2 linked regions of the Homo sapiens genome follow. The protein of the gene in region 1 purifies or fractionates together with the protein of each later gene. This does not show direct contact. Each region holds a gene or a part of one and is shown on either strand. Other genes may lie near its edges.

Region 1 (3,906 bases):
CAGATTGCAGAGGGATAGAAGAGGCCGACCTGGAGACAGTAACTTTAGAGGAGGGGTTCATGGGGTTCATGAACTTTGGGGGAAGGGTTCCTGCCCTAGGGGTTCATGGCTACCACCTCCTGCCTTATCCTTCTCATCTGTCCCTCTCTCCTAGGAAGTGCCTAAACTGAACACAGGTGGGTGGAGAGAGGAGATGGGAGCAGAGCCCATTGCAGTTGCAGGAATCCAGTGGGTGGTCCCTGGGTTGGGGTCTCAGATGTCTCCTTTTGCCTCTCTCTCAGACACAGATACACACAAACATCCTTCAGGTAGCCCAATTTCCTCTCTCACCTCTTCCCCTTCTCCCCAGACCCCAGCCATTTCTGACTCCATCCCTCTCTCAGACAGCTATCAGCTAAGAACTACTCTAAGCTAATTGACCTGGGGGCTGTTGGCTAAAGCAATAGGGAATTCAGTAACTAAGTGCCTCTGGGGGCCAAGCCTGGAAGTGGAGGGCTGGGGAGGAGCACCTCTAAGTCTTGGGACTTTGTCACTGCCCAGCTGGTGGAGAACTCCTGGATATGGCCACTGCATGCCCAGTGTGTCCTGGAGGCAGAAGGGCAGGCCCACAGAGAGGCTTGGAATGTTCTGCTGTGGATGGAGGTTGCTTCTGAGTGTGTTTCAGTTTTGTGGAAAGTAATTTCAATTCTCTGGGGATAGCGAGGGAGACAGAATATTCAGAATGAGAAGCTGGGATTAGGGGAGCGTTAAGCTCCACTGGATTCATTCCCATAGCAGACAGTGCCACTTCCATGTGCCAGGTCCTGCGCTGGGGCAGTTAAGTGCAGCACGGAAGGTTCAGGGCTGAGAGCCATGGGGGTGGTACTAAAGGGGGCCCAGTGGGGTGGGCTTCAGAACAAGGGGGAACATGCTGGGGATGAGCAGACTCTCAACATCCAGGGGGAGTCCTCCCAATCTCCCCAGCCAAACTCAGCCTCTCGGAAAATGCCAGGTTCATAGAATATGTTGGTGTCTCCCCAGCTAACTAAATCAACCGGCCAATTCTCTCCGGCCATTCTTCCGCCTTGGCCAACCCCTGCCCACCCCCACCCCCAAGCTTTCCCTCACTTGTATGTTTGGGGTGGCCAATGCAGAAGCCTCTACCTTCTGACCTATAACGTCCCAGTCAGGACCCTTAGGTGTGCATTCTGGGAGGCAAAGCTGGAAGGAGACAGCGAGAATGAGAAGGGGTGCCTAGCTGGGTGGAGGATAGGACTGGGCATTAGGGCTCCTGGTCTCTATTTTGGGCAAAGTTCCACCTGGCCCCACTTCTTAGCTTCTAAGCCCAATCTCCTGTAAGGAGGTTGTAAAATTATTCTTTATTGAGGGGCAGTCCTTCCTCTGGGACTCTTTGGCCAAGCCCACGGTGCCCCATGTGTAATGGATGTGCAGCGCCAACCTACCTGGACACAGGAATTGGACATCTTCCTCATAGAATATTTAAAAATGATCATGAAGCTGCTGTGTATTCACTTGAAAGGGAAGTTCCCTTAAGGAACTGTAAGGACAGACACTGCCACCCCAGGCTCTCCAAGGCCACTCTCCAGGGAGAGGGAGGGTCAATTGTGATCTTTCTGAGATCCCATGAGTTCTTGGATAGAAAATGCTTTCCCACCCTTCTGCATGCCCTCTGTGTGGCTGACAGTTCTGGGGGCCCAGGAGGTTGGGCTGTGCAGCTTAGTGCCATGTGTCTCTAGTTGGTGTCACACCAGCATGCCAGGCTGAGAACATCCCTGGGGGTGAGACTGTGGCAGTGGCCTTGGCCATGGACAGCAGCCATCTCAGACTTCCTCACAACACCCTCATCACATATGCGCCCCGAGCATGCAAGCACACATGTGCACCTCTGTGTGTGTCTGCAGGGGAGTGTGAATGTAGAGTGTGAAGTGGAAGCATGTGGAGGTGTATGGGGGCCCATGCAGCTTGGTGTGTGTGGCTGTGAGAGAAAGCTTCTGTGTAGGCAAACCTCTGGTTGCATGCAGAGCACATACTAGCAAAATTAATCATCTCTTTCAGTTGTGCTTTGCAATTTACAAATTCCCTTTACTTTAGCTCACGTGATCTTCATAATTCTTGTAGGAAGGAAATTATTAACATCTTCATTGGAAAGATGGGAAAACTGAGGCTCAGAGGAGTTGTGTGACTTGCCTGAGGTCACACAGCTGGGAAATGACAGAGTGGGACCCTGACTTCAGATCTTCTAAGTCCGGGTTCTTTGTGTGTGGCTGTAGGAGTGTGTATGGAGGAGGGTGCTCTGTTGAGAAGCAGTGTGGAGAGGCAGGAAGGGCAAGAAAGGGTATAGAGAAGAGACCCTAGGAATCCCGTTCCCAAGTTGAGTAGGCCTAGTTTTTTGATGCTTTTGTCTTTTCATTGCATCATCAGGCCAAGTGCCAATCTTAGGTGAACCCACCACTGGCTTTCCCCAGGGTCACACCAGGGCAGTCAGGACCTCCCTGAGGAAGTCACATACCAGGGCAGCTTAGTATCACATTGCGTTCATGCTCAACATCCTTAAATGGGCGTGCAGTGCTGCCTGGCAACCCCACTGTGTTTTCCTGGTCAGCTTGCTCTCTCTGATGACTACTTCGAACTTCTCCACTCTTCTCAGTCACCCTTCCTAGCTCCTCTCTCACCCTCAGCGGATGACCTTGGCTACCACTTACTTCACTGAGAAAATAGAAGCCTCAGACAAGATCTTGTCCTTCTTCTGGGTACCAAGCCCTAGAAGGGAACATTCATCTTATCTAGGATAAAGTCTCAACCTAGAATTTTCATCTTATTCCCTCTGCCTTTTTAAGATCTTTCTCCTGCTAATTCTGTCTCTCCCTGCTCTACAGTTGGTCGCTCTTTCTCAAGTGAAACCCCATTGACAATGAAACATGCTGAAGATGCTCTTGTCTTAAAATACATAGCTGTAACGACAGCTAACATATATTGAGAACTTGCTATGTATCGGTCTTTGTGCTAAGATAAAAACTAAAACATGTGTCTCTCAACTCCACAGCACCTGCCAGCTCCTATAGTATCTCTCTGCTTCCCTTTACAAAGTTCCTAAAAGTGATATGTTTATTTCACTGTTTCTATTTCCTCATCTCTAACTCACTTTCTGATCCACTCCAGGCTGCCTTCTTCCCCCATCATCACCATTCCTCCTAAATGGTTCTAGCTAAGGCCAGTGGTCACCTTCATGTTGCCGAATCCAGCAAATATTTTTTTTATTATTCTTGATCTCTCAATAGCATTTAAAATAGTTGCCCACCAACTCTTCTGCTGTTGTTTTTTTTTTTTTTTTGAGACGGAGTTTTGCTCTTGTTGCTCAGGCTGGAGTGCAGTGGCACCATCTCAGCTCACTGCAACCTCCGCCTCCTGGGTTCAAGCAATTCTCCTGCCTCAGCCTCCTGAGTAGCTGGATTACAGATGCGTGCCACCATGCGCGGCTATTTTTTTGTTGTTGTTGTATTTTTCGTAGAGACGGGTTTTCTCCATGTTGGTCAGGCTGGTCTTGAGCTCCCGACCTCAGGTGATCCGCCTGTCTCGGCCTCCCGGAGTGCTGGGATTACAGGCGTGAGCCACTGCGCCCGGACCCCACCACCTCTTTTTTGAACTATTCGCTTTCCTGACAATCATACTCTCTTTGTTTTCCTCCTATGTCTACCCACTCCTCTGTCTCTTTGCCAGTTCATTTTCTTCTACTTGGCCATTTAGTGTCATCACTACTCAAGGCTCAGTCTCAAGCTTTAATCTTCTTTTAAATCATAAGAGTACAATGCACCAGCTTGAAAAATTTTTACACTGGTATGTCTTACAGTGTAGTATTTTGCATATTGCATTGGTATAAAACATTTCCAGTACCCCAGAAAGTTCCTT
Region 2 (3,906 bases), on another chromosome or scaffold:
GTGCTGCACCGGGAAGATCATTCTCATCTGACAAATGAGGAAGGCGAGGCTCAGGGCAGCTAAGCCAGGCTTCAGATCCTGAGCGTCGCAGCACCCCTTCTCTAACACTTCCTGATGTGGGCTCCGGCGCTGTTAAACGTAGGCCCGCTCCGGTGTGCTGAGCCAGGGTGCGTTCGGCCTGCAGAGCAATCTCCAGCGACTGACAGGCACGACGCCCTTATTCCAACCCAAGCCGGGGATGCTGCTCAGAAGGCTGGATCCACGGCCCCACTCCAGCTCACCTGGGCAGGGTGGCAGGCTCGGGGGAGTCTGCATCTTCTTCAAGCTCTCTAACAGTGGGTTGGTGCTTGGGGCCAGGAGGGAGGTGGGTGGGGAGGCAGTTGCAGCAGCAGGCAGGGTAAAGGTAAATGAAGGCTGAGTGGTAGGTGGGGTCTCAGTGACAGAGTTCGAGGCAGCATCTAAGAAAGAAAGAAAGGTGAAGCAGTCCTGGCTTGTCTGGGACTTCTTTCCACATGCCTGTCGGAGAGCAGGCTCTCAGCACAGCTCATGGAGGAATGTCTGCCCTAAATTGCAGTAGTCCCTGCTGTCCAGTTCCCGTGAAGACCAACACGGATATCTCAGGTGAGAAAGACCACAAGAAAACATGGAACTCTACTTCGGATTTTCCCAGAGAAACCCATTTTTCCAAACACCAAAATAAAACCAAAGAAAACAGACACCTGAAACCTCTCGAGAGTGCAACGATCTGTGCTCCTTACCACTCTTGTCCTCCAAGGCCTGGTTGAACCACTGTAATGAAGCCTTCTTCTCTAAGTCTAGGTCCTCGGCAGTGATCGAATAGCCAAGCTGGGGAGGTGGAGGCTACCAAAGAGAAAAAGAAGAAGTCAGGCCAATCAGAAAAAACGGGAAGGCTGGGCGTGGTGGCTAACGCCGGTAATCTCAGCACTCTGGGAGGCCAAGCCAGCTGGATCACTTGAGGTCAGGAGTTTGAGGCTGGCCTGGCCAACATGGTGAAACCCCATCTCTACTAAAAATACAAAAAATTAGTCAGGCGTGGTAGCAAGCGCCTGTAATCCCAGCTACTTGGGAGGCTGAGGCAGGAGAATTGCTTGAACTCAGGAGGCAGAGGTTACGGTTAGCCAAAATCGAGCCACTGAACTCCAGCCTGGGTGACAGAGGGATGTTGTCTCAAAAAACAAAAACAAAAATAAGTTAGAAAAAAAAACAGAAGAAACTTGTCCTTAGCGTTCCTAAGACTTAGGAGAGCTAAGCCGGGGAGGGCAGGAGTAGATGGACAAGACCATACCAAGGTCAGCTGTTCCCCTCGCCGAGAAGGCAGCAGCTGAACTTTCCGCTTACGCTGCCCAGAGCTGCCAGGTGTAGACTGAGAATTCGAGTTTTGTTTCTTCCTTGGGGTTGTATCTGCAGCTAAAGAAAGAAATCAAGACTCGTTTGCTTCCTTCCCTCTTCCAGAAATGGATGGTTGTGTCTACCCACTTCGCATTTCACACTGAGTTTTCAATGATGGTATCTCTGAAAAGATTCAATCTTCTATGGTTTGGTTGCTTGGATGGTGTTTGTAAGATTAAGGCGCGCACACAAACCGCTTACTGTGCAGTAATTACTGGGATCACCCACAGGTGACTCAAACTGAGCTTACCTCTATCCAATCGTTAGCCCCCATCTGTAGCCTTTCTCCCTCATCAGACTATAAACTTCTGAAGGAGAGGAAATCTCTCTCTTTGTATCTAACATGCCTTAGACATAGCAATGCTCAAGACCTTTTTTCAATAGGTATTAATCTCTACATCCTCCACAAATACCTCCACCACCAACAGCAGCCCCTCCTCCTGGCTCAGCAACCTACCCTTTTCTCCCTGGGACTCCTTGTCTGCTGCCAATGGAGTTGAAGAACTGGAATGATGACACAGCTCTTCTTCTCTGTTGGGAAAAAAGGAACAATTTAGTCTAGAAAGACTTCTTGGCTGAAGTATTAAATAATTTCTCACACCCTCCTAACTACCAAGTGGCCAACATCTAAAACAACCATCATTTAAGATCTCAGTATGCCAGGATAAAAAAAGTCAACAGGAAATTCCAACAGAATGAAGGGAGGCTGTTCACAGAGGCCATGAAGACAGTTTTTGTCTTAAAACAAGCACAAAACAATAATCTTCAAACCTTACTTACAACCTACCAAGTCCCTGGGAGTTCTAGACACAGATGTGATCCCTGAGGGAGTGGCATTCCAGCCAACTGCAAGCACCTAGGGGATCAGCTCGAGTCAAGAACCTGAAGGCGACTGCCCGCTGACTTGACTCTCTCTGCTCTCCACTCTGCATGGCCTCTGTGCTTGCACCCGATCCCTCATGCTGGAGTGGGAGGCGACAGCCAGAGGCCACTGGAGTCAGTATCCAAGACTGTAGGGATGATAGTTGTTCAGGTGGGTGCTGCATTGTCCCTCTCAGGGACTTAGTTTCTTTGATTCTCCAAGTCACAGCAGCACAAAGCCTAAGAGCCAGGTTCGTTTCCCACCTTTCCTCACCCCCTTCTGTCCACGTAGCAAATGAAAACTGCAGGAGAATGCCGAATACCTTATTTTCTTTGCTGGCCTCTCCGGTGTCTGGGAGCGGGATGAGGCTGGGCTAGAGAAGGGTGATGAACTGGGGCCATTTCTCTTCCACAGCTAAAAATCAAGAGGGACATGACTGAGCCTGCTGATAACTTAGCATCTGACCCTCAACATGACAAAGTCTCTTTTTAAGTGACTAAAAAAATATTTTTTATGGTTAAATGGTTAGTCATGCCTGTAATCCCAGCATGCTGGGAGGCCAAGGTGGGAGGATTGCTTGAGCCCAGGAGTTTGAGACCAGCCTGGGTAACATAGCGAGACCCCCGTCTCTACAAAAAATTGAAAAATCAGTTGGGTGTGGTGGTTTGCATCTGTGGTCCCAACTACTCAGGAGGCTGCAGTGAGCTGAGATTGCCCCACTGCACTCCAGCCTGGGTGACAGAGTGAGACCCTGTCTCAAAAAAAAAAAAAAAAAAAAAAAAATAGAAAATGAAAATGAAAAAAATTTGTTTGTGAAGAAAGACCCCTGAAAAGAAAGTCAACTGCCAGTATTAATTATGAAAGCAAAAAAAGAAAAGTCTATAAAAGTAATGGAATGTGAATAAAGGTAGAAGGGATGGACACACTTTTGCATATATTAGCCTCAGTAATGAAGAGCCAGGACACATTCAAACCTGTGCCAGACTGTCTACGGAAAGGATACAAGTAAATTAAAGAAGACAACCCAGTAAACTAATTTAGTCTTGCTTCCATTAAATTTTCGATTTTTCATTTAGTAACTTCATTTTAAAAATACGCTGTCATGGCCAGGCGTGGTGGCTCACGCCTGTAATCCCAGCACTTTGGGAGGCCAAGGGGGGTGGATCACGAGGTCAGGAGATGGAGACCATCTTGGCTAACACAGTGAAATCCCATCTCTACTAAAAATACAAAAAAATACAAAAAATTAGCTGGGCGTGGTGGCGGGTGCTTGTAGTCCCAGCTACTCGGGAGGCTGAGGCAGGAGAATGGCGTAAACCTGGGGGGCGGAGCTTGAAGTGAGCCAAGATCGTGCCACTGCACTCCAGCCTGGGTGACAGAGTGAGACTCTGTCTCAAAAAGAAACAAAAAACAAAAACAAAAACAAAAAAAGCACTGTCATAATATTTATGACTTTTGCAACAACGATGGCATTTATCATCATGTGATGATTATCCATACATCTGCCTCTTCCACCAGGTGAGTTCTTGACAGCAAAGATGGTGTTTTCATCTCTGCTTCCTCCACAGACCAGCAGCAAAGTAGATGGCACAGAGCGGACACTGCAAATAGTCTCGTAAGTGCTGAGCCTAATT

Evidence for each region. The genes of interacting proteins can lie anywhere in the genome.
Region 2: the proteins of ASIC1 (region 1) and POM121C purify together in Homo sapiens (affinity purification with mass spectrometry, with the first as the bait; one large-scale study listed by BioGRID). This does not show direct contact.

What each region holds. Positions count from the first base shown.
Region 1 is NC_000012.12:50,064,096-50,068,001, forward strand, and holds part of ASIC1 (acid-sensing ion channel 1), read left to right. Parts: intron 1-3,906. UniProt on the Homo sapiens protein: Forms voltage-independent, pH-gated trimeric sodium channels that act as postsynaptic excitatory receptors in the nervous system, playing a crucial role in regulating synaptic plasticity, learning, and memory.
Region 2 is NC_000007.14:75,423,768-75,427,673, forward strand, and holds part of POM121C (nuclear envelope pore membrane protein POM 121C), read right to left. Parts: intron 2,687-3,906; coding exon 2,595-2,686; intron 1,942-2,594; coding exon 1,868-1,941; intron 1,429-1,867; coding exon 1,307-1,428; intron 862-1,306; coding exon 759-861; intron 459-758; coding exon 282-458; intron 1-281. UniProt on the Homo sapiens protein: Essential component of the nuclear pore complex (NPC). The repeat-containing domain may be involved in anchoring components of the pore complex to the pore membrane. When overexpressed in cells induces the formation of cytoplasmic annulate lamellae (AL).